7 linked regions of the Homo sapiens genome follow. The protein of the gene in region 5 purifies or fractionates together with the protein of the main gene of each other region. This does not show direct contact. Each region holds a gene or a part of one and is shown on either strand. Other genes may lie near its edges.

Region 1 (3,500 bases), on a different chromosome or scaffold from region 5:
TTGGGACTCAAATACTTCAAAAGTTTTTCTGGCTTACTGCCTATTTGATCATGATAGTTTTGTTTTATATCACTCGTATTTTTCACTGAAGTCAAAAAGGGAAGTAAGGGCTTTATTGCCACAAGCCCAGAAATTACCATGTAAACATGCTTCACTGAATCCAACACCTCAATCCATGCTAAGAGATTTGAGTAATACCTAAATGGTAAAGCAAAACGTATAAAGAGGAAGATTTCTACTAGGGAGTGATGGGGAATGGGAGGGTCACAGTACTTACGACTCTGCTTCTTGAATGGAAACATGTCTCTCCTTTTCCAAGTCTATTTTATTACCTATTTTGAAAAAAGTAAATATTTATCTTTATACTGATTTATTTTCATAACAAAATTAAGCCAATTCTAAATATAAAATTGCCATTTTAATTACCAGCAAAAATAATGCAAATCCCCACCAGACTTCTAATGTCTTGAAATTATAAAGTTAAGCCTTGTGATCTGAGGGTTGATCATGCCTCATCCTCCTTCAAATGACTCAATTCATACCTTTCCTGAATCTGCAGCCTCTGACAAAGAAAACAACTTTTCCAAAGAGACAGGCACTCTTTTTTGATTTTGGGGGATACCAGAGACCTAGAGATAAACCTATGATTCTTAGGCAAGTGTAAATGATCAAAAGTAAGAGCAAAATTTTCTACAGTTCCCATTAACTTAGAGCCGGTCAATAAGTATGGCTATCTTAGTGTTTACTAAAATATATTAATCTAGCCTCTTGGATCCTACAAGTATTTTGGTTTCCTGGATGATATAAACCAGTTAAAGTAAAAATTAAAGTGTACAGATTTTTAAGTACTCCACAATCATAAGGGGAAAAACTGTATTCTCTTTTTTTTTTTTTTTGACGGAGTCTCGCTCTGTCACCCAGGCTGGAGTGCAGTGGCGCCATCTCGGCTCACTGCAAGCTCCGCCTCCCGGGTTCACGCCATTCTCCTGCCTCAGCCTCCTGAGTAGCTGGGACTACAGGTGCCTGCCACCACGCCTGGCTAATTTTTTGTATTTTTAGTAGAGATGGGGTTTCACTGTGTTAGCCAGGATGGTCTCGAACTCCTGACCTCGTGATCCGCCTGCCTCGGCCTCCCAAAGTGCTAGGATTACAGGCTTGAGCCACCGCGCCCGGCCGGAAAAACTGTATTCTTTGTTTAAAAAACAATTTTAGTGAGTTATTAAAACTTAATATATGTATATCATGCAGATTTAAATTATAAGTTTAGCTCTCCTTAAACAACAGAACCAAGCTGGGATTATACTTTTAAAAAAAGCCATCAGAACAAAAATGAAGAAACTGCAAAATACTGATTCCTTGAACTTAAGATGAGTTGGCTGGACACCCAGAGTGCTAAAGGTAATAAAAACAGTAGATAACGATAAGGAAAAATACCCTATGGAAGGACACTTCAAACAAACATTTTTATTCTTCTACTATGGCTTTTAGGGAGAAAAGAGAAATCTTATAAATAAGGTTACTTTTTTTCTTGGAACCATATAGATTCTAGGAGACAATTTCAGATAAATTTCAGATAAGGCATTGAAATAAGCACCCAATAAAAGATAAAATGTTTAGCACTGAGGTGGACAAGTCCAAAGGTTCTATATACTGAGGACCTCGAATAATCTGAGAACCTAGTTGCTGGCAACTGCAAGAAACTATCTGCCACCATAGCCTAAGAATCAGAGAGAGGGAAGCAGACAACACTAAAGCTCAGTGGATACCAACAAATTCAGTAACAAACTCTTCCTTCTTTGAACAGCTATCTACCACAGCAAGAAGTTTCATATTAGTTCTAACTTCCTACATTATATTTGTCATTGGAAATTTTAATTAGCTAAATATGACAATGTCTGACAGTAACCAGAGGAAAAACCGTCGTGTTATTCTGTAAAGAATGCAAAAAGCACCACCTGGTGGCCAGTGGCTCCAACAAACAGGAAAAAGATTCTGCCTCACAAAGGCAAAATAAGATAGTCTCCTACTAAAAGTAGCAATATTAATTTTGCTTCAATTACCTAAAACCCTATGGAATTTTTTTCTAGGTATTTAATGGCTCATGTTCCAAATTCCATCAATATCATCAATACCTATAAAAAGAGTGAAGAGAGGAAAAGCAGGCAATCACCTTACTGCCTCAAATGAACATTTAGGAGAAATAATTCAGACACTGCTTTATTATTTGATAATATTTTAAATGACTAATTTTAATAAATCAGGCCATTAATAAATAGCTATCTTAATAACCTATTATTTTAAACTTAAAATATTTTAAATCTAAATAACTATTATTTCTTTGAATAATCAGTGTTCACAATGGATTGACAGCACAGAATACATTGCAGAAACCTGACTGGCTAGTGACTGACCTCTTTCCAAAGCTCAAAAACCCTTTTAGTTTCTATATTTTTTCAAAAGCAAGACAGCTAAGGAGTAAGGCTTTGAGACTCATATCTGCTTCAATACTACTGTGCAGCTACATACGGAACTTTCTGATAGGCTTAAAACACCTGAAAACAAGGACAATAACCAAAGCAAGCACCTACTTAAAAGTATAGTACTATAAAGAATTAAAAACATAAACAAATAGGCTGACACTATTGGAAAGGGAGGGAAAAAGCTACCCTCTAAGTTAAGCAGATCTTCCTTAAAAATACATATTTGAATTAAGAACATAGAAGGGGCATGTCCACTGCTAAGGGCAAATGGCCTAATGATATAGAACTAGAATCATATTATGCTTAGACTGAATGGTTGTGGGGCACAGTGGAAAGAAGCTTTCAGAAAGCTTTTAAATGTGATAAAACTTGTTTTTAAGTCCTTGCTTACTCCATAACTGTAATTTTTTTTTTGTTTTACCTTTTTTTGAGACAGGGTCTTGCTCTGTCACTCAGGTTGGAATGCAGTGGCGTGAACACGGCTCTCTGCAGCCTCCACCTCCCGGGCTCAAGCGATTCTCCTGCCTCAGCCCCGAGTGGGACTACAGGCACACACCACCGCATCTGGCTAATTTTTGTATTTTTTTGTAGAGATGGGGTTTTGCCATGTTGCTAGGCTGGTCTCAAACTCCTGGACTCAAGCAGTCTGCCCACCTTGGTCTCCCTAAATGCTCGGATTAAAGGCCAGAGTCACCACGCCTGGCCATAACTGTAATATTTTGGACAAATTAGTTAACCTCTGTTAGTCTCACTGTACGCATGTGTCGCTAACAAACCTTGCAGGGTTGATGTGAAAATAAGATATATGTAAAAGGCCTAGCATATACTATATGCTCAATAAGGAACAGTTATTAATATTAATGACATTCATCACAGTGAATGATCAAATGGAAAGTCAATATTGTTGTAAGACAATTAAAGTCCATGACAGGTAATACAAACTTACTCCTGACCTCAAATGATCCGCCTGCTTCAGCCTCCCAAAGTGCTGGGATTACAGGGGTGAGCCACCACGCCTTG
Region 2 (3,500 bases), on a different chromosome or scaffold from region 5:
ATTCCTGTAACAGAAAGTCAGAGAATAAAAAGATTAAGTTTGACATTATTTTATGTATTTTTAAAAATTATTTTAACATCAAGAAATCAAAACAAGCAAATCAGATTATATAATGTGTATAAAAATCAACCCTAAAATATGCTGGCATATTTCATTTTATCTGTACCCATTTAAAAAAAGTACAAATATAGGGAAAGGTTATATTTAAATGCATGAAGTATACTGAAAATGACACTTTCTAAAAAGTAGAAACATGGCGATAAAGAAAACTATTAATGTTTACCTCATGTATTGAACTTACATTTTTTTTCTGTAAATTGATGAAGCAAGCAAGATTTTCCTACTCCCATGTCCCCTGTTTAAAAAAAAAGAAGTTTCAGGTGGCAATTACATTTCTCAATTTTATGCAATGATCGCTATATTCCTTACCATATAACATATCACAAGTTTCTGGGACACTTAACAAATTTTTATTTTCCTACTTTATAATGATTCAAAAGTTTTCACTGTGAGACACAAATGGAATATTATTCCCAATCTTTAGCAGTGACAGAATTTGGCTGTAAATTATTACTGTTAATAAATAGCCACCAGCTGGGAAGTGCTTATTTTTTTAATGGAATTTTTTTTACTTTGAGCTGTTTCAAAATTTTATGTTTTTGTTTTCTTTTGTTTTTTTCCTTAAACTCATGCATAAAAGCAACAAATTTCAAAAACTGACAAATGGGGTAGCATGTAACAAGCAGAAATAACAAACTGAGTTCTGGAAGCTTGATTCACTAGGTCCCTGTCTTATACTTCTTGTATTATTCTATGAAAGAAAAGAATTTGCATTACATGAAAACCCCAGGAGAAAAGATGTCATCTCTGACTGTACTATAGCAATGTTAACCCTTGATGAAGGAAACATTAGAAAGGACACATTAAGTTCAACATGAAAGCAAACTGTTCTAATGTGAACAATTCATTGAAAAACGTGTACTTTCAAATGTAGTTTTATGTTTGGATAAATAGCATTAAGACTTAATTTGAGCAAAACCTTCTTGAAACTTAAGGAAAAAAACACCAATTAAGAAAAATACTATATTTTATATATATTACACAATTGATTTGGAATCAAACAATATTCTCTACCAATTTTTCCTTATAACAGAAACCCAGGGGAATCTGAGAGCTTTCACAGTATTTTAGGAATGTTTCTGCACTCCTTGAAACACTGATACTTCCTAGCATCAAAAAGCTTTCAAGCAGCCCTCAAGAACAATGAACATCACTTCACAAGGTACCCACCAGCACTGTACCACAGAAATATCCATGGCCACAATGCAAAAGCTGCATTGCTAATGCAAAAATAAATCTTATAAAAGGAGTTTTAGTTTTACAGTAAGAAAATCACTCAGTCCTGAAGTGGTACTGTTTAAGTATTAACATATAAATATTTTGTATGTTAACCTTCTTTTGGGAACAAGAGTGTAAGTTAAATAAACTTACCAATAATAATATATTTAAAGATGTAAGAGTAGTTGTATGGTGCAGTTGCCATGGTGGCACTAAAAACAAAGAAATCTCTGTTACTTCAGAAGGAAAGCATATACAAGTAATTCAAACGGATGACTGATATCCTTTAAAGGTAGAAAAGGACACTGAATACAAACAAATGTTGGTTACAGTAAGTCAAAATAAAACTGCATTTCACAAACTGATCAAATACACAAATTCTCTTGGATGAATGATGCTTACACATTCTCATGTGCTATCCACAGAAATATAAGAAACCATTTATACCACAACTCCAATATTTCACTTAATATCCACTAGAACTTAAAAGTATAATTTAAAAAAAATCCAATAAGTATTAATCTGAAAATTGTCAAACAAAAAAATCTTTATAAATTTAAGTTAAACATCACTATAGTCTCTTCTCCCCTTAAAGTCCCCTTCCCTGTTAACTGATCAAGTAAGTTACTAATGATCTACTTGTTCAGAACTCTGATATTAAACAGAATGGTATATAAAGGAACCACTTAATTTATAAACACAAAACAACGTTTTTACTCTACTTTAAATCAACAGTTAGCAGCGCAAAGAGCAATCGTATGATTTCCAAATCAATGTTGGAACTAGACTGAATCACATGAAACTGTTCTTCCTATAGATTTTTCAAGTCAAAGTTTATTGGCATTTTCATATAGCTCAACCTAATACAGGACTTGCAGATTATCACTCACACACACACACACACACACACACACACACACACATTTTTTGAAGACCAGGCTGGTCTTGGGTCTTGAACTCCTGGCCTTAAGCGTCCCTCCCATCTCAGTCTCCCAAAGTGCTAGGATTACAGGCATGAGCCACTGTGCCCAGCCAGATTAACAACATAGTAAGTGCTTCCCATACACTATTCTAGGGACTGAAAGAAATAATGTCATAAAATTGTACTTATGGTTGCAAAATTTGAAAGCTTGTGTATTAGAAGATATTTCAAAAGATCACAGCCCATTTCTTACCCTCAAATAGACTTAACCTAAAGAATTCTAATTTCTCTTCTACTTAAAAAGAAAACAAAAAACTTTCCAATTTATTCAAATGAATTATCTGAATGTGTAAGACACGTGCTAGGTCCTAGAGAGAAACAAGGGGCTGAACTGTAAAACTGGTAATAACTTTCAATAAAGTTTATTCTCAAACCAGCTTTCAGCTTAAGACAAAAATTATTTATACATATAAAGATTTCACCCATTTAAAAAAATCTGACTTACAGTATTTTTAAGCCTGGCTTTTAGTGTTTCTGTCAATGTCACATTACACAAGCCAGACATTTAATATGACTGGAGAAATTTATTTACTGAAATTATCACCTTACTATATACCATATTTCAAGCAAAAGTTCTATATAACAACATTGAACCCGTAGAAAGAATATATATTTAAAACAAGTGTATTATTATAAGGGAAGAGGAAGTTGTTAATTACAGTAAAGTATTAATCACTTCCACACACTACAGTCTTCTCACTTAGCTATCTGTATTACATTTAGTGAAAGTAGAAGCCTTGTTACCCATTCCAGTTTGGCATGTTCTAACACATTTATAATCAGTCTCCTGCATCACAGAAAACTCCCTTAACCAGTTCTTTCAGGAAAGGGAGTTTTTCTAGTTAGATTAACTGATTCTGAACATCACAACAACTTTATTCCCTTTTCCAGGCACTAGGAACTCAAAACTTTTAAGAATGAACTTGGTCCTGAGACTAAAACTGGTCTGGATTATTTACCTGATCTCTGAACCAGATGCCAAACACAAGGGGGAAAAGTAATCTCTTACATTAAAAATATTTAAAGATTATTAACTTCTTAACTTGAATTCTTCCGACTCTTCTAATCAATTTTTAATTCTTCTAAATTCTTTCCCCATTCAAACCTGGGTAAAAGTAATCACTTAGTCACCTTCAAATTACTGTCTCTTCTGTGCTCTTCTCCCTTGATTTTCCTAATT
Region 3 (3,500 bases), on a different chromosome or scaffold from region 5:
ACCTTCCGAGGCCCCCCGCCCGGCCCGCTCCTCCAGCAGGCTCTCGGTGCTGGCCGACGTCTCCGAGTCCAGGTTCTCCTCGTCCGAGCCCCTTGGGTCCAGCTCCGGCAGCCGGTAGGTGATGTCCTCCCTGGAGGAAAAAGGGTAGTGGTGTCCAAGGCCACCCCACCGGAAGTGCTGGGCCAGTGTGGAACAGAGCAGGCTGTCCTGCTCCTAGATGTAACTCTGTGTCCCCAACCTCCCCCCACCCCAAGCAGGAGGATTGCTTGAGCCCAGGAGTTTGAACCCAGCCTGGGCAACATAGGCGGACCCTGTTCTGCAAAAAGTAAAAAAAATTAGCCAGGCGTGGTGGTGTGCACCACCTGTGGTTCCGGCTACTGGGGAGGCTGAGGTGGGAGGACCCCGTGAGCCTAGGGGATTGTGGCTGCAGTGAACCGTGATCGCACCACTGCAATCCAGCCTGGGTGACAGAGAAAGACCCTGTCTCAGAAATAAAGGCCGAGTGCGGTGGCTCACGCCTGTAATCCCAACACTTTGGGAGGCCAAGGTGGGTGGATCACTTGAGGTCAGGAGTTCAAGACCAGCCTGGCCAATGTGGTGAAACCCTGTCTCTATTAAAAACACAAAATTAGCAGGGCATGGTGGTGGGCACCTGTAATCCCAGCTACTCGGAGGCTGAGGCAGAGAATCGCTTGAACCCGGGAGATGGAGGTTGCAGTGAGCCGAGATAGCACCACTGCACTCCAGCTGGGCGACAGAGCGAGACGCCGTCTCAAAAAAAAAAAAAAAAAAAAAAAAAGTGTTGTTTGCCCAGTGTTAGGGATGACAGGACCAAACCTGGCGAGGTCAAGCGGACCACCAGGGATGGAACCTGCACTCCAGCTTGCCCTAAACATGAAGGACTGAGGGAGGGGACTGAGCCACTTGCTTCTCCTCCTTGATGGACTGGATCCGTTCAATGAGAATCTCCTTTTCCCGGTCCTCATCGCCGCCGGCTGCCTCCTCCTCCAGCAGCACCTCCAGCTCCTCCTCCTGGATGTCCCGGGTCTTGGGGCTCTTGTTCTGAAACAAAGAAGCAAGGGGTCCCACTGACATCTCTGAGTGGGCGAGGTTACTGCCGGAGGTGTGAGCAGATCCCAGGAGGTTAGTTGTGATGTGAGTGTGCTGGGCTCTTAGTGAGACTTCTCTAGGAATCCCATGGGACAGAGTGGTGGTCATGTGGCCGATTAGTCGTCCTGAGCACAGAAGGTCAGCAGGCAAGGGGCCTCCCCAGCATGCACTTCCGGAAGGTTAGGACAGGCTCTGTCTATCCTACGAGGGGCCCAGGGCCCCAGGGAACCCCAGCATGCACTGCACCGGGAGACATGCACCGCGGGCCCACCGAACGCGTACATACCAGGACCCCCTCATAGGGAGACGAAAACCCCAGTTTGAGAGGCCATGGCTGGGAGAGAGATGAACACAGGGTGACCACACGGGCCAAGACAGACACAGGCATGAGCTGGGGATACATCCAATGACCGGTACCAAGATAGGGGGTCCCTGGTTCCCACAGGAGCCCAGAGCCCGTTCCCCACTAACACACCCCTGCACTGTGGGGCTGATTCTTCTGCTATGGGAACATTTCCCCGTGGGTAGGGCCCAGGTCAGAAGGGACAAGGCTGGACGCATGACCTGAACCACCAGCAAGCAGGAAGCTGGTCCCCCTACCTGCCCCACCTAGAGGAACATAATTGGAGTGAGGCTGAGCGAGGACCATCGTCTTTCGTTCAAGGCAGTAAGTCTGCCCCTACCTGCAGGGCCTGGTGGCCCCAGCCAGGCTGGTTGTGGCCAAGGGTGTGGTAGGAGTGGGCGGGGAACTGGGAAGGGAGGCCCCGCCCTGCTACCCGAGACCACACCCACTACCCGGTCCCATCCTCGGCATGGGAGGTCCTGCCCACCCAAGGCCCCGCCCACCAAGACCCCACTCACCAGCCTTCCCAGCAACAAAGCCACGCCCAAGGCCCTGCCCAGCACCAGGCTCCGCCCCACCAAAGAGGTCCCGCCCCCACGATCACCGGTACTCACAGCATTTTGTCGCAGGAGCGAAAGCCTGCGGAAGGCGATACTCTCTGCAGCCTCCAGTTGGCTGATCTCCTCCATCTTCACTTTGTATTTCCTCATCTGCTCCTTGATCAGCATCTCCACGCACCTACAGAGAAGGCCCACGGGAGGAAGTGACTCAGTTACCGCCCCGGGGACGTCTGAGGTCCAGGGAGATGCTAGCTGGTGCCTGGGGGGCAGTGGTTGAGGCTCAGAGACCAAGCAGTGCCTGGGACACGGCTGTGCCAGCTCCCATGCAGTGTGACCTTCGGCAGCTCACTCTACCTCTTTGAGCCTGTCTCCTGTCTCTGCACGCCTCCTTGTTTGAAGGAGGGTCAGAGTGAACTGAACCCCTTAGTCACCAGTAGGGTGGGAATTATCCTGCCTCGCAGAGAAGTACAAGCTGCTGGGCAGTTTGTCCCAGGGGCAATAGGCAGATGGCCCCAGGGGCTCCAGACATGGGCTGACCCACAGTATGCCCACTTGGTGGTCAAGGCCAGCCTGGTGTTGTCAGTATCAGAGGGTCTCAGCTCGGAGTGGTCAGTGTCAGAGGGACTCAGCTTGGAGTGGTCATTATTGGGAGGAACTCAGCCTGGAGTGGTCAGTATCAGAGGGACCCAGCTTGGAGTGGTCAGAACCAGAGGGACTCAGCTTGGAGTGGTCAGAACCAGAGGGACTCAGCTTGGAGTGGTCAGTACCAGAGGGACTCAGCCCGGAGTGTTCAGTGCCAGAGGGACTCAGCCCTGAGTGGTCAGTACCAGAGGGACTCAGCCCGGAGTGGCCAGTACCAGAGGGACTCAGTCCGGAGTGGTCAGTACCAGAGGGACTCAGTCTGGAGTGGTCAGTACCAGAGGGACTCAGGTTGGGTGAGCTCTGTGGTGCGACCTGCAGGGGCTGCTGCTTGTTCCTTATCCTCCCGTGACAGGACGCTTTGTAGCAGAGAGAGGAATCCACTACCATTCACCTATCATCCAGCCTTTGTTAAAAGTTCTGTTTTAGGCTGGAAGCGGTGGCTCACGGCGGATCACAAGGTCAGGAGATCGAGAACATCCTGGCTAACATAGTGAAACCTCGTCTCTACTAAAAATACAAAAAATTAGCCGGGCGTGGTGGTGGACGCCTGTAGTCCCAGCTACTTGGGAGGCTGAGTCAGGAGAATGGCGTGAACCCGGGAGGCGGAGCTTGCAGTGAGCCGAGATCGTGCCACTGCACTCCAGCCTGGGAGACAGAGTGAGACTCCGTCTCAAAAAGAAAAAAAAAAGTTCTGTTTTAGTACAATGGGGTGTGCTCATTAAAGCACATTCAAAAAGACACAACTGCTGGGGCCACTGCCATCTGGATTTTTTTTTTTTTTTTGAGACGGAGTCTCGCTCTGTCGCCCAGGCTGGAGTGCAGTGGCGTGATCTCAGCTCACTGCA
Region 4 (3,500 bases), on a different chromosome or scaffold from region 5:
TAAGCCAGAATTTAAAAGTACATACAAACCTCCATACTCATTTTCTCCGAGTTGTTTCTAAAGAACGGACTATACGTTTCTTCTAAGCTGTTAAGCACCTCTGGTTCACACAAACGTCCTGTTTCATATACCCAACTACTCTGCATATCAAGCTGCTTGGCAGCATGAATACTATTCTGCTGCTGTTGAAATTGCAACCTGTTTAAATGAACACCACTATCTGCATTTCTACTTGCAGGTGGTCGATAAATTTCAATAGAAGGGCGAGAAGAACCATATGTAAGTGTCACTGTAGGTTTTTTCTGAGATAAGGGATTCTCCTGCACAAAGTTGAGGTCTTCGTCAATGAGATCATCTGGTTCTGGCTTAATATCAATCACATCTTCAGAGGGTGCTGGCTCCCTCAAAGGTTTCACTGTTGACATTAGTCGGGTTGCAGCTCCATCATCGTAAGTCTGTCTATTTAAAAGAACAACAAAATGTATTACAGCCAAATTAGGGCAATTATCACCAAATCTTTAAAGAATGTTTACTTGAAAAATTTCAATGAAAAAACTGAGGATACTCCCTTTACATATTCCATTCAAAACTGCTTTGAAATTGCACTTTCTTTCAACTTTGATTTACTAAATTTGTGATAAAAGATAATCATACTTAGATCTTATCCATTATTTTATTCAAAAAACTACTCACGATCACTTCATTGTTTCTAAAAATTGCTGAGAACAGCAAACTGAAAGATATAAAAACTAATATAAATGTCACATACACAGAGCCATCTGCCCCCAGCAGGTCTACACCAGACTCTTACCTGACATTTGTGGTTTTTGACTCCTGCGAACTTGTAGAAACTCTGGAATCTCTTTTTTCAGGTCTCGCGCTAGGAATGGCAAGTGGTGGCACTGCAGCTTCATGCCTCCTCTCATCTCCCCGACTGAAATTGCTCTTGTTTGAAGGCACGTTACTATCAAAGATGTTGGTATCAGAAGACTTCAGACTAGAGGGTTCTGAAAAGAAAAATACAGTCCTTTTAATCTATTTTTATTTCTTATTTTTATTTATTTATTTATTTTTGAGATGGAGTCTCGCTCTGTCGCCAGGCTGGAGGGCAGTGGCGCGTTCTCGGCTCCCTGCAACCTCCAAATCCCTGGTTCAAGCGATTCTCCTGCCCCGGCCTCCCAAGTAGCTGGGATTACAGGCATGTGCCACGATGCCTGGCTAATTTTTGTATTTTTAGTAGAGACGGAGATTCACCATGTTGGTTGGCCAAGATGGTCTCCATCTCCTGAGCCCATGATCCGCCCACCTTGGCCTCCCAAAATGCTGGGATTACAGGCGTGAGCCACCGTGCCCGGCCATCTATTTTTATTACTTTAAGTCGTTTCCTTCCTCATCACCAATTCAAAAGCAGTATGTTTATTGTAGAAAATTTTAAAAATATAATAAAAATCACCAATTATCTCAAAGGTGATTTTTCGGGGGAAGAGCATATATACACATTTTTTAAAACATGTATCTTATGCGTGTATATTCTGTTATTCTTCCACAACATTATTTTTAATAGTTAAATATTATTCCACACATGGTAATACAACAATTTCGTTTATTATGACTGAACTTTTAAATTGTTTTCAATTATAAAATACTGAAATATCCTTGAGGCTAAATCTTTGCACATATATGTAATTATTTCCTTCGGATAAAGTGCACTGCTCCCTCTCCCACACTTAAATTATCTTTGAATTATGTTAAATTTACTGCTCTTAAGTTCATAAAAGTATGTGCTTTCTAAAAAAGTTCAAATGAACCGTTTTGAAATTGATGGGTTTTTCCCAAAGCACTATGACTTTAGAAAGAAACAAATCATATGCCATAGCAAGCAGAAATTAAAAAAAAAAGTTATGAATCTTACCAGTTGTAACAGAGCGAAGTTTATCTAATACACCATGAAGCCTGAGGAAAAAAACAAAAAACAAAAATAAACCTTCTGTTAAGAAAGATTTCATTTCAACTGTCACTCTAAATTTATGACATTATATTCAGAGATAATTTTTTAAATTTTTTTATATTTTTATTATTTTTAAATAGAGATGGGGTTTCACTGTGTTGTCCAGGCTGGTCTTGAAGTCCTGGACTTGAGAGAACCACCTGCCTCAGCCTCCCAAAGTGTTGAGATTACGGGCGTGAGCCACCGCACCTAGCTGAGATAAATACTGATAAACTGTATTTAGTGAATAAATGGTATGAACTTTCAAACTTCACATTTTTAAAAAAGGGCTTTGTATAAATCCTACAGAAGTCAATAAAAAATTGTATTTTTTTCTTCACTGTTTTCAACATCTAGCCTCTGCAAAAATATGGGAAAGAATATCATCTGACCAGTCTTAGTCTACAAAATATGTCACCCTGTTTGTAAGTACTAAAGATTTACTGTAGCTTACAGTAAAACAAGTATCATAAACATGTAATATTGCTTATTATTACCACCATTTAAGCAGCTTATATTAACTGCTTAAACTAGATGGTGTCTTGGACAACTTAATTCTGAGAGGTTAAAACAAGTTATAATCTCAAACTATGCTATATCATTTCACTCTATTACTTTCAAAACTGATGCTGTAAGGCTGTAATCTTGCTTGTAACATAACCTGTTTTGGTAGTTATAAATGAGGTACTTTGCCTTACATCCCTTCCCAGTACCTCTCAAAATATGCCAGAAACCTCATGTTTCAATGAGAACCCTAGTCACATGCTACTGTCCCCACGGACACAATTACTTCAAGGCTCCAAATAATCACAATAGTCTGTTTGGGGCTGGTGTTAATGAACACTAACTTAAGAAAGCAAAGTGCCAAAATGGGGACATCACCCTTTGCTTCACTACATGTTAAAGAACTCAATTTATGGCCAGATGAGAATGTTGAATTAATTTGGTTTTAAATTCATTTGGTAGTCTGTTTTAAAAATCTAAGTATTCTATCAAGTTATCGGAGAAAAGGATCTACTCGGTCGCTTTAGAAAAAAAAATAGTACTCACAATAATGGTAATTTTCCCAGTCAAAAGACCCACAGTCTTTTTTTGTGGGGGGCTGGGAGGGAATAACCTCTGGGGACAAATTGTAACAAATGGGTTGGGTCACCCACAGTGAGGCAGCAGTGTATCATAACAACTGATGACCACTATACAATGTTCTTCAAATTTGTGCAATGTATAAACCCAGAGAATTCTGTGCAGAATTTCAAGACGGTTGATAAGCATACAGTTGCCTACTTGGGCAAAAACACCTTGAAGACGACCTTTGGTATAAAGGCAAGAACTTAACCAGGCTCATCTCCCCACTCAGTGCCTCCTCTTGCACTCAAATTCGGCAGGCCACTTGCTCACTTCTGCTACATCATCACCTTTCACGGTAACTGGTAGTTCCTAGCCTGAGAAGCCTAATAAAGTATTTCGTCTGTCTATTCTCAGCTACATCATTATCCTCCAGCCCTCATCCTCA
Region 5 (3,500 bases):
TATTCATTGAATGATAGGACAAACATTCATAAAACATACGTCTATCTCTGCAAAATATCGTGTGCTCACTTATGTGTCTTCTTTTGACTAAAATGAAAGCTTTGTCGATCTGCCTTGTACATCTGCCTTGCTCACAGCTGTATCCCTAGGGCTCAGCTGTCCGGGTGCATGGCAGACATTTAATAAATATTTGTCAAATGAATGAATCAAAGCTTAATTCAGGATCCCATTTACCAGTCATCAAGTAGCATGCAGACTTACTGCCTCCATGATTTATGATAATACATTAAGTCAGTTTAATTGGAAGGATGTTCTTCTACTTGTCTAACTACATTATTTTCTTTTATTTCTGATCTCTTTCTGCAGCCAGGAATAGTGCTATGGAAAACAGACTGCACAGTACTAGTTCTATTATGTAAGAGTTTTAATCTATTCTTGATGGGAAATAGGTCAGACACTGCACCATCTGTTCTGATGGAACCATACTATTATGAAGTAGCTTTAGCTTATTGCCCAACTTCTCTGAGCAGTTCGACTTGTTTAATAGTTGCCAGAGATAAAACAGGATTAAAGGATAAGTACAACTGAGTTCATCTTCTAAATTCTGTTTTTTTTTAATGCAATAGACCTCAAAAATCAAGTCTGTTTTACTGTCTCCCAATTTATAATAACAAGGAGTATATGGGTGATGCCCAGGTAAAATAGTCCAAGGCAGCTTCAGCTATGAGTTCACAGTGGTGCAGAGCGCAGAGATTGCAAAATAATTACCAGAATTCCACTTTCTTACCTTTCTTATTTAAGATAATAGAAATAATGAGAGCCAACTGAAAACTTCGGCAGTATTTCCCCACTCCTCTGATTATTTAAAGTGCCTAATATTTTCACAAAATGGCCAATTTAAATAATAATGAAGGATGCGAATACATTTAGTTATAGAAATGTTGACATCATCCAAAAGATTGTTTAGTTTGCAGTTAAGAACAAAGTAAGTATCCTAGAATAATGAAGTCACAATTCACAGTTACCGTAATTCAAAATAAGAAATGCCAAAATGTAAACATTTTAAAATATTACTATATTTAACAGTATGATATGACTTTTTTATTTTTATGTTTATTTTTCGTAGAGATAGAGCCTCCCTCTGTTGCCCACACTGCTTTTGAACTCCTGGTCTCAAGTGATCCTCCCACCTCGGCCTCCCAAAGTGCTGGGATTACAGATGTGAGCCACTGCACCTGGCGGAGATGACTTTTTAAAAGCCTTTATAAGGATATGAACAGACACTTCTCAAAAGAAGACATTTATGCAGCCAACAGACACATGAAAAAATGCTCATCATCACTGGCCATCAGAGAAATGCAAATCAAAACCACAATGAGATACCATCTCACACCAGTTAGAATGGCGATCATTAAAAAGTTAGGAAACAACAGGTGCTAGAGAGGATGTGGAGAAATAGGAACACTTTTACACTGTTGGTGGGACTGTAAACTAGTTCAACCATTGTGGAAGACAGTGTGGTGATTCCTCAAGGATCTAGAACTAGAAATACCATTTGACCCAGCAATCCCATTACTGGGTATATACCCAAAGGATTATAAAACATGCTGCTATAAAGGCACATGCACACGTATGTTTATTGTGGCACTGTTCACAATAGCAAAGACTTGGAACCAACCCAAATGTCCATCAATGATAGACTGGATTGAGAAAATGTGGCACATATACACCATGGAATACTATGCAGCCATACAAAAGGATGAGTTCATGTCCTTCGTAGGGACATGGATGAAGCTGGAAACCATCATTCTCAGCAAACCATCGCAAGAGCAAAAAACCAAACACCACATGTTCTCACTCACAGGTGGGAATTGAACAATGAGAACACTTGGACACAGGAAGGGGAACATCACACACCGGGGCCTGTCGTGGAGTGGGGGGAGGGAGGAGGGGGGAGGGATAGCATTAGGAGATATACCTAATGCTAAATGACGAGTTAATGGGTGCGGCACACCAACATGGCACATGTATACATATGTAACAAACCTGCACGTTGTGCACATGTACCCTAAAACTTAAAGTATAATAAAAAAAATTTTAAAAAGCCTTTATAAACTAAACCAAATATAAACAAAAATAAACTATACCTCTTGACAGCTCTATTTTAGCTCTAAGTCAAAGCAGGTAAATTTTTTTTCCCAATAGCTTTATTGGGATATAATTAACATCCCACAAACCTCACCCTTTTAAAGTCTGCAATTCAGTGGTTCTTAGTATGTTGCAGATTTGTGCAACCATCACCACTATCTGTGGAACATTTTCATCACCCCGAAAAGAAACTGTATACCCATAAGTAGTCATTCCCCTTCCCCAGCCCCAGTCAAGCCCTAATCAAATTTCTGTCTCTATGGATTTGCCTATTCTGCACATTTCACGTAAACAGAATCATATTTAAATGACAATATGTGGCCTTTTGTGACTAGCTTCTTAAATTTGGCATAATCATTTCATAGTTCATCCATGTTATGGCATGTAACAGAACGATATTTCTTTTTATTGCAGAAGAGCAGTTTGCTGGATGGATAAACCACATTTTGTTTACCCATTTGTCAGTTCATGAACATTTGCATAGGTTTCACTTTTTGGCTATTATGAATAATGCTGCCATGAACAAGATTTTATGTGGACATATGCTTTCACTTCTCATGGTATGTAAGTAGGGGAGGGATTGCTGAGTCATAAGGCAACTAACTTTCTGAGGAACTGCCAAACTGCTTTGTACAGCTGCTGCACCATTTTATGTTCCCACTCGCAGTGTATGAGGGCTCCAATTTCTCCACATCCTCATCAACACTTGCTATGGCCTATTTTATTTTGGCCACCCCAGCCCACTCTGTGGTTTTGCTTTGCATTTCCCTGATGGCTAATGATATCCAGCATTTTCATGCGCATATTGGTCACTTGTATATCTTCTATTCAAATCCTTTGCCCATTTTTAAATTGAGTTGTCTTTTTGTTGTTGAATTTTAAGAGTTCTTAAATATGCTGGATACGAGTTCCTGCTCAGACAAATATAATTTGCAAATATCTTCTCCCATTCTGTGGGTTGTCGGTTGTCATTTCACTTTCTTTCTTTTTCTTTTCTTTTTTTTTTTTTTTTTTGTATTTTTAGTAGAGACGGGGTTTCACCATGTTGGTCAGGCTGGTCTCAAACTCCTAACCTCGGGTCATCCACCCGCTTTGGCCTCCCAAAGTGCTGGGATTGCACATGTGAGCCACTGCGCCTGGCCTCACTTTCTTGATGTTGTCCTTTGAAACATAAAAATTTTTCAAAGGACAAACTTTGAATGAAGTTTTTGGATGAAGTCTAATCTATCAATTTTTCCTTTGTTCTTGTGCTTTTGGTGTCATATCTAAGAAACTATTGCATAGTCCAAAGAAGCAGATAGATTTTTACATAGTTTATATAAATTTTTCCATTTGTTATTGGTTTTCAAAGC
Region 6 (3,500 bases), on a different chromosome or scaffold from region 5:
TAAAGTTTTAAAAAATTACTACCGGACATTTCATTCATTCAATAAAAATTTATTAAGAAAAAATTCATTTCCAGAAAATCATTGTAAAATCACTGGTAGCTTCTATTTGGGGTCATCTTGTAAGATGGCTATACAGAGTTTTGGAGTAATTTACTAATTGTCTTGAATGGGGCTCTAGATAGACTGTCCAAAAACTTAAGAAAAAATTAGCAAATAACAACATTAACTTTTTTTTTTTTTTTTTTGGAGACGGAGTCTTGCTCTGTTGCCCAGGCTGGAGTGCAGTGGCGCAATCTTGGCTCATTGCAACCTCTACCTCCCAGGTTCAAGAGATTCTCCTGCCTTGGACTCTTGAGTAGCTGGGACGACAGGTGCACATCACCACACCCAGCTGATTTTTATAATTTTTAGTAGTGATGGGGTTTCACCATGTTGGCCAGGCTGGTCTTTAGCTCCTGACCTCAGGTGATCCTCCCACCTCAGCCTCCCAAAGTGCTGGGATTACAGGCATGAGCCACCATGCCCGGCCAACATTAACTTTTAGAAAATAGAAATACTTCAATAATAATGACTTCAACAGTACATTATATCCTGAAGATCAGTTGGAATATTTATTCTTCCTAACCAAGCACACAAATGTGTGTTCATGAAGGGTTTATACAAGTTCTAGGTCTTACCTCATCTATGTTTCTAAGCCATTTGCTGATGTTTTCAAAACTTTTACCATTGGTGATGTCATATACTAGCATGATACCCATTGCGCCTCTGTAGTAGGAGGTTGTGATGGTGTGAAATCGCTCCTGGCCTGCTGTATCCCTGAAATAAACAGCCAATAATTTCTATTAAGCATTTTGATATTACTACATTTCACATAAAGGACAAAACAAGAATAGTTTTTCCTAAGTATATATAAAAACTTTTTAGTTGAAGGAAATTAATAACCTACCCATACTGGATGAAAATCTGAAAGGGAAAACAGTAGGAAGTGACACATAAAACTCAAGTTTATTGAATAAGCACTAGCAAACACCATAGAAACTCTTAAAATTTCATTTTATTTAATAATTTAGTTCCATAATGTAACACAAAAGCAGGTAGGATTTTTAGAACATTAGAGAACTATACCATAGTACAGTCATATTTACATTTAGAATCATTAACCAAAAGTTGTAAAGATAACCTCACTTATAAATAATAAGACAGAAATGTAAATAGTAGTATTTTCCATTATTTAATGCTTAAAGCCAAAGGTGTAAGATGTATTTTGCTCCTGTAACTATGCCCTCTCATTTGTATCATCATTTTGCTCTTTTATGGATCATCTCATCAGCTTACAAACATGTTTTAGTATCTTTTTTAAAAAAGCAAAAATAAGGTCGGGCGCAGTGGCTCACACTTGTAATCCCAGCCCTTCGGGAGGCTGAGGCGTGTAGATCACTTAAGGTCAGGAGTTCAAGACACTTGGCCAACATGGTGAAACCCCATCTCTACTAAAAATACAAAAATTAGCCCGGCATGGTGGCACGTGCCTGTAATCCCACCTGCTCGGGAGGCTGAGGTAAGAGAACTGCTTGAACACAGGAGGCACAGGTTGCAGTGAGCCAAGATGGTGCCACTACACTCCAGCTTGGGTGACAGAGCGAGACTCCGTCTCAAAATAAATAAATAAATAAATAAATAAATAAATAAATAAATAAATAAATATAAAGCAAAAGACCCCAATCTCAACCCTGTATCTCTCCAACTATCCCTGCTCCTCTTTCGAGTTAATATTTTTAAAACTTTTATTTTGAAATAATTACAGCCTTACAGGAAGTTACAAAACTGTGCAGAGAGGTCCTGGGTACCTTTCACCCAGCTTTTCCTAATGATAACATCTTATATTACTGCAGCATAATAGCAAAACCAGAAAATGGACATTGGATACAATCTACAGACCTTATTAAGATTTCAGGGTTTTTTTTTTTTACATGCACTTATTTGTGTATGTGTGTATATATAGTTCTCTACAATTTATTACATGTACAGATTTGTGTAACTACCACAAGACAAAGAACTATTACATCACCTCTTTACTCCCCATAGTCCCTAAACTCTGATCAATAATCTGTTTTCTATGTTTATATTTTTTTCATTTCCAGAATGTTACGTAAGTGGAATCATGTAGTATGCTACCTTTTGAAATCGGCATTTAACACTTCTTTCACCATAATGCTCTTGAAGTCCTCTCAAGTTTTGCACATAATCCTGGTCTGTCCCATTTCATTGCTGGGTAGCATTCTATGGTATGTCTGTATCACAATTTGCTTAATTATTCACCCATGGAAGGACATTCAGGGTTGTTTCCAGTTTTTGGCTATAACAAAGTTCGAAGAATATTCATTTACAGGTTTCTATGTGGACATAATTTTTCATTTCTTTGAAATAAATGCCCAGGAATGTTATTTATGGGTAATATGGTAAGTGTATAACGGTAAGAAACTGGCCAACTTTTTCCAGAGTGGCTCTATCACTTGACATTTGCACTAGCAACATATAAAAGATCCAGTTTCTCTGCATCCTCACCAGCATTTGATGCTGTCACTTTTTTATTTCTGTAGTTCTAAGAGGGCACATAGTAATATTTCATCATCACATTAATCTGTATTTCCCTGTGGCTAAGATGGTGAACATTTTTTCATGTGTTTATTTGCCATCCACATGTCCTCTTTGGTGAAATGTCTGGTTTTTTTTTTTGCCCATTTTCTAATTGGATTGTTAGTTTTTTGTTTTTGGGGTTTTTTTTTTGAGATAGAGTTTCGATCTTGCCGCCCAGGCTGGAGTGCAATGGCACAGTCTCGGCTCACTGCAACCTCTGCCTCCTGGGTTCAAGTGATTCTCCTGCCTCAGCCTCCCAAGTAGCTGGGATCACAGGCGCCCACCACCACGCCCAGCCAACGGTTGTATTTTTAGTAGAAATGGGGTTTCACCATGTTGGCCAGGCTCGTCTCAAACTCCTGACCTCAGGTGATCAGCCCGCCTCAGCCTCCCAAAGTGCTGGGATTACAGGCGTGAGCCACCGTGGCTGGCCTGGATTGTCAGTTTTTTTGTCTTTTTACTGCTGACTTTTGAAAGTTCTTTTTATACAGAAGTCCTTTGTCAGATACACTGGCTTGTAAATATTTTCTCCAAGTCTGTAGCTAGTCTTTTCATTCCCTTGACAGGGTATTTTGTAGAGAGGAAGCTTTTAATTTTGTGAAAGTCTAATTAATTTACTGATTTTTTTTTCTTTTACAGATCATGTGTTTAGTGTTATGTCTAAGAATTCTTCACCTAGTCTTTTTTTTTTTTTTTTTTTTGAAACAGGGTGTCGCTCTGTTGCCCAGGCTGGAGTGTAGTGGCACGATCTTGGCTCACTGCAACCTCCGCCTCCCAGGTTCAAGAGATTCTCCTGCCTCAGCCTCTGGAATAGCTGAGATTACAGGCACGTGCCACCACATGCAGCTAATTTTTATATTTTT
Region 7 (3,500 bases), on a different chromosome or scaffold from region 5:
CTGGAGACAGACTGTGTATGGGGAGCAGCGAGTCATTCCGAGTGGCAGTGCAGAGAATGAGCCAGGAAAGGCGCAGACCCTGGGCCCATGTCATCAAGGCGCTGGATGTTGCACCAAGAAGGGAGCTCGGGGTGTGTCCCAATGGGCAGTGATGCTGGGTGAGGGTGACTGGTTTTGTTTAATCCTTTATCTAGGACATTATCTTTTTTGAGAGACGGGTACACAGTAAATATTTGAAAATGTCTAATTCAATGGATCCTGTGGATGAAATGCCCAAACACCAGTAATTTTTTTTTTTTTTTTTGAGACGGCATCTCGCTCTATCACTCAGGCTGGAGTGCAGCCCGATCTTGGCTCAATGCAACCTCCGGCCCCCAGGTTCAAGTAAGTGATTCTCCTGCCTCAGCCTCCCAAGTAGCTGAGGAGTACAGATGCCCGCCACCACACCCAGCTAATTTTTTGTATTTTTAGTAGAGATGGAGTTTTGCTATGTTGGCCAGGCTGGTCTTGAACTCCTGAACTCAGGTGATCCACCTGCCTCAGCCTCCTGAAGTGCTAGGATCACAGGTGTGAGCCACCGTGCCAGACTTAAATATTAGTTCTTTTTTTTTTTTTTTGAGACGGAGTTTCACTCTTGTTGCCCAGGCTGGAGTGCAATGGCGTGATCTTGGCTCATGGCTACATCCACCTCCTGAGTTCAAGCGATTCTCCTGCCTCAGCGACCTGAGTGGCTGGGATTACAGGCACTCGCCACCACGCCCAGCTAATTTTTGTATTTTCAGTAGAGACGGGGTTTCACCATGTTGGCCAGGCTGGTCTCGAACTCCTGACCTCAAGTGATCTGCCTGCCTCTGCCTCCCAAAGTGCTGGGATTACAGGTGTAAGCCACTGTGCCCGGCCCTAAATATTATTAATATATAAAAAAAGCAGGCACATTTATAGAGTATGGTCCTCACCCCTTCCCAGTGGTCTCCAAATGGGGTGGGCTAGACAACCTGCAGCAGTGAAAAAGTGATGAAAAAATCTACTTGTAAGTATTTTTCTTTAAAAATGTGAAAAAAATGGCTTCACTGATTTGTTTGTTTGTTTGTTTGTTTCCTGTAGGGACAGGATCTCAGTCACACACAGTTATCCCGGCTGGAATGCAGTGGTGTGATCCTCCTGCCTCAGCCTCCTAAGTAGCTGGGACTACAGGCATGTACCACCACACCTGGCTTTTTTTTGTAGAGACGAGTCTCACTATGTTGCCCAGGCTGGTCTCAAACTCCTGGGCTCAAATGATCCTCTTGCCTCAGCCTCCCAAAGTGCTGGGACCACTGGCATGCGATACCACACCCTGCCAGCTTTACTGACATTTAATACTTGGACAGACCCTGGTGTTCACGCTGGCTTGTATGTCAGCAGCCGTGGCATCCTGACTGAGGAGGAGGCACCCTGTGATGTGGGGAGTGATGGTGGGCCCTCACCACAAGTCTACTTTAAGCATCCTAGGCGTGTTGGAGTTTACAAGTTTCAGAGCTTTCCAGTTGTGGTCAATTAAAACAAACAAACAAACCACAAAAACTCAAGACCCTTAAATAGCGAAAGCTTTACAATGCTTCGCAGTGATGTGGAAAATGACCATGAGTATCTTTTGTGTGACTTGGAGGTTTACTGGTCATTTCATGGCTTAGTATTTCAAAGAGTCAGAGAATTTAAGGAGAAGGTACAGATTTTCTTTTGTGAAAAGTTCCAAATCCGGAGACATTTTTTCGTTTTTAATGACAAATGACTGCAGCAGTGTGTCATCTACCTTTTTTCTTTTAAATAGACACAACGTAATCTGTCCCTTCAAAGAAAAAGTGACAGTATATGAGAGTTACAGCTTTTCAAAAAGAATCTGTACCAAGAATAGAGCATTTGTGAAAACAGACGTTTGAAGAGGTTTCCACAATTACGTGACTGCGTTCCCAATGATGCTACAAGCGTACTGTCTATATGAACATTTACACCCGCACACCAAAACATCTTCAACACCAGAATCTCCACCTACCCTGATAGCCCCTGAACATACCCAGCCCAAATTCATCAAGGGCCCTCAGATGATGGGTAAATGAAATTGAAAAACAAGTACCCTGCCTCGTAAGCACAGGGTCTGTGCCTTTCTCTGTATCATGTTAATGTGTAAATGCTGTTAATAACTAGGGCCTGAAATATACAGAACTTTTTTTTTTTTTTTTGAGACAGAGTTTCACTCTTGTTGCCCAGGCTGGAGTGCAAAGGTGCAATCTCGGCTCACTGCAACCTCTGCCTCCCAGGTTCAAGTGATTCTCCTGCCTCCGCCTCCTGAGTAGCTGGAATTACAGGTGCCCGCCACCACGCCCAGCTAATTTTTTTTTTTTTTTTTTTTTTTGTAGAGACGGGGTTTCACCATGTTGACCAGGCTGGTCTAGAACTCCTGACCTCAAGCAATCCACCCACCTCGGCCTCCCAAAGTGCTAGGATTACAGGCGTGAGCCACCTCGTCTGGCCAATAAACAGAACTTACAATTGATCTTAAATGCTGGGACTTAGGATTCAATGAGAGTTTATAAATGGGATGTGGACACATGGCTTTCATCTTTAAAAAGCATGTTTATACAATAGTTTTTGTAGCATTCATATGTTGGATAAATTTAATCATGTTTATTTCACCTCTCATCCTTTTTTTTTTTTCTCTGTTAGAGACAGGGTCTTGCTCTGTTTCCCAGGCTGCAGTGCAATGGCATCATTATAGCTCACTGCATTCTTGAATTCCCAGGCTCAAGCGATCCTCCCTCCTCAGCCTCCACAGTAGCTGGGACTTCAGGTGCACGCCACCATACCTGGCTATTTTTTTTTTTTTTTTAGTAGAGACAGGGTCTCACTATGTTGCCCAGACTGTTCTCAAACTCTTGGCCTTAAGGGATTGTCTCATCTCAGCCTCCCAAAGTGCTGGGTATACAGGTGTGAGCCACCATGTCTGTCTGGCCTTCGTCCCTTTAAAAGATCCAAATTTGTATATATTTCTATGTCCATAATACATCAGGACAGTAATTGTAATTTATAACACATAATATATATTGGGCTGCATGTTTACATTCATTCTTTTACACATAACAGTACACATGAAAAAAAAAGTCTGAGGCCTTTTTTTTTTTTTCATGCAGGGTCTCACTCTTTTGCCTAGGCTGGAGTATAGATAGTGGTGTGATCATGGCTCACTGTAGCCTTGACCTCCTGGCTCAAGTGATCCTCCCACCTCAGTCTCCCAAATAGCTGGGACCATGGGTGTGCACCACCATGCCCGGCTAATTGTTTGATTTTTTTTTTTTTTTTTTTAGAGATGGGATCTTGCCATGTTGCCCAGGCTGTTCTTCCAACTTGTGGCCTCAAGTGATCCTCCCGCCTTGGCCTCCCAAAGTGCCAAGATTACAGATGTGAATCACTTGCACTGGCCAAGGCCAATTTATAACCTCAGTGGCCCTTGTGGGGATGAGGTA

Evidence for each region.
Region 1: the proteins of SLC46A3 (region 5) and RAB21 purify together in Homo sapiens (affinity purification with mass spectrometry; one large-scale study listed by BioGRID and IntAct). This does not show direct contact.
Region 2: the proteins of SLC46A3 (region 5) and RAB14 purify together in Homo sapiens (affinity purification with mass spectrometry; one large-scale study listed by BioGRID and IntAct). This does not show direct contact.
Region 3: the proteins of SLC46A3 (region 5) and MYO9B purify together in Homo sapiens (affinity purification with mass spectrometry; one large-scale study listed by BioGRID and IntAct). This does not show direct contact.
Region 4: the proteins of SLC46A3 (region 5) and ZC3H14 purify together in Homo sapiens (affinity purification with mass spectrometry; one large-scale study listed by BioGRID and IntAct). This does not show direct contact.
Region 6: the proteins of SLC46A3 (region 5) and RAB10 purify together in Homo sapiens (affinity purification with mass spectrometry; one large-scale study listed by BioGRID and IntAct). This does not show direct contact.
Region 7: the proteins of SLC46A3 (region 5) and ABCA3 purify together in Homo sapiens (affinity purification with mass spectrometry; one large-scale study listed by BioGRID and IntAct). This does not show direct contact.

Annotation. Positions count from the first base shown.
Region 1 is NC_000012.12:71,778,863-71,782,362, reverse strand, and holds part of RAB21 (ras-related protein Rab-21), read right to left. Parts: intron 333-3,500; coding exon 278-332; intron 1-277. UniProt on the Homo sapiens protein: The small GTPases Rab are key regulators of intracellular membrane trafficking, from the formation of transport vesicles to their fusion with membranes.
Region 2 is NC_000009.12:121,191,870-121,195,369, forward strand, and holds part of RAB14 (ras-related protein Rab-14), read right to left. Parts: intron 1,551-3,500; 5' UTR 1,544-1,550; coding exon 1,492-1,543; intron 356-1,491; coding exon 302-355; intron 1-301.
Region 3 is NC_000019.10:17,208,277-17,211,776, reverse strand, and holds part of MYO9B (unconventional myosin-IXb), read right to left. Parts: intron 2,192-3,500; coding exon 2,068-2,191; intron 1,445-2,067; coding exon 1,397-1,444; intron 1,063-1,396; coding exon 929-1,062; intron 131-928; coding exon 3-130; coding exon of another isoform or gene 1-2. UniProt on the Homo sapiens protein: Myosins are actin-based motor molecules with ATPase activity. Unconventional myosins serve in intracellular movements. Binds actin with high affinity both in the absence and presence of ATP and its mechanochemical activity is inhibited by calcium ions.
Region 4 is NC_000014.9:88,569,537-88,573,036, reverse strand, and holds part of ZC3H14 (zinc finger CCCH domain-containing protein 14), read right to left. Parts: intron 1,954-3,500; coding exon 1,913-1,953; intron 1,008-1,912; coding exon 812-1,007; intron 460-811; coding exon 30-459; intron 1-29. UniProt on the Homo sapiens protein: RNA-binding protein involved in the biogenesis of circular RNAs (circRNAs), which are produced by back-splicing circularization of pre-mRNAs.
Region 5 is NC_000013.11:28,705,471-28,708,970, forward strand, and holds part of SLC46A3 (lysosomal proton-coupled steroid conjugate and bile acid symporter SLC46A3 isoform a precursor), read right to left. Parts: intron 2,163-3,500; exon of another isoform or gene 1,127-2,162; intron 1-1,126. UniProt on the Homo sapiens protein: Lysosomal proton-coupled steroid conjugate and bile acid transporter. Preferentially recognizes lipophilic steroid conjugates or bile acis as endogenous substrates and seems to mediate escape from lysosomes to the cytoplasm.
Region 6 is NC_000002.12:26,107,084-26,110,583, reverse strand, and holds part of RAB10 (ras-related protein Rab-10), read right to left. Parts: intron 817-3,500; coding exon 678-816; intron 1-677. UniProt on the Homo sapiens protein: The small GTPases Rab are key regulators of intracellular membrane trafficking, from the formation of transport vesicles to their fusion with membranes.
Region 7 is NC_000016.10:2,334,229-2,337,728, forward strand, and holds part of ABCA3 (phospholipid-transporting ATPase ABCA3), read right to left. Parts: intron 1-3,500. UniProt on the Homo sapiens protein: Catalyzes the ATP-dependent transport of phospholipids such as phosphatidylcholine and phosphoglycerol from the cytoplasm into the lumen side of lamellar bodies, in turn participates in the lamellar bodies biogenesis and homeostasis of pulmonary surfactant.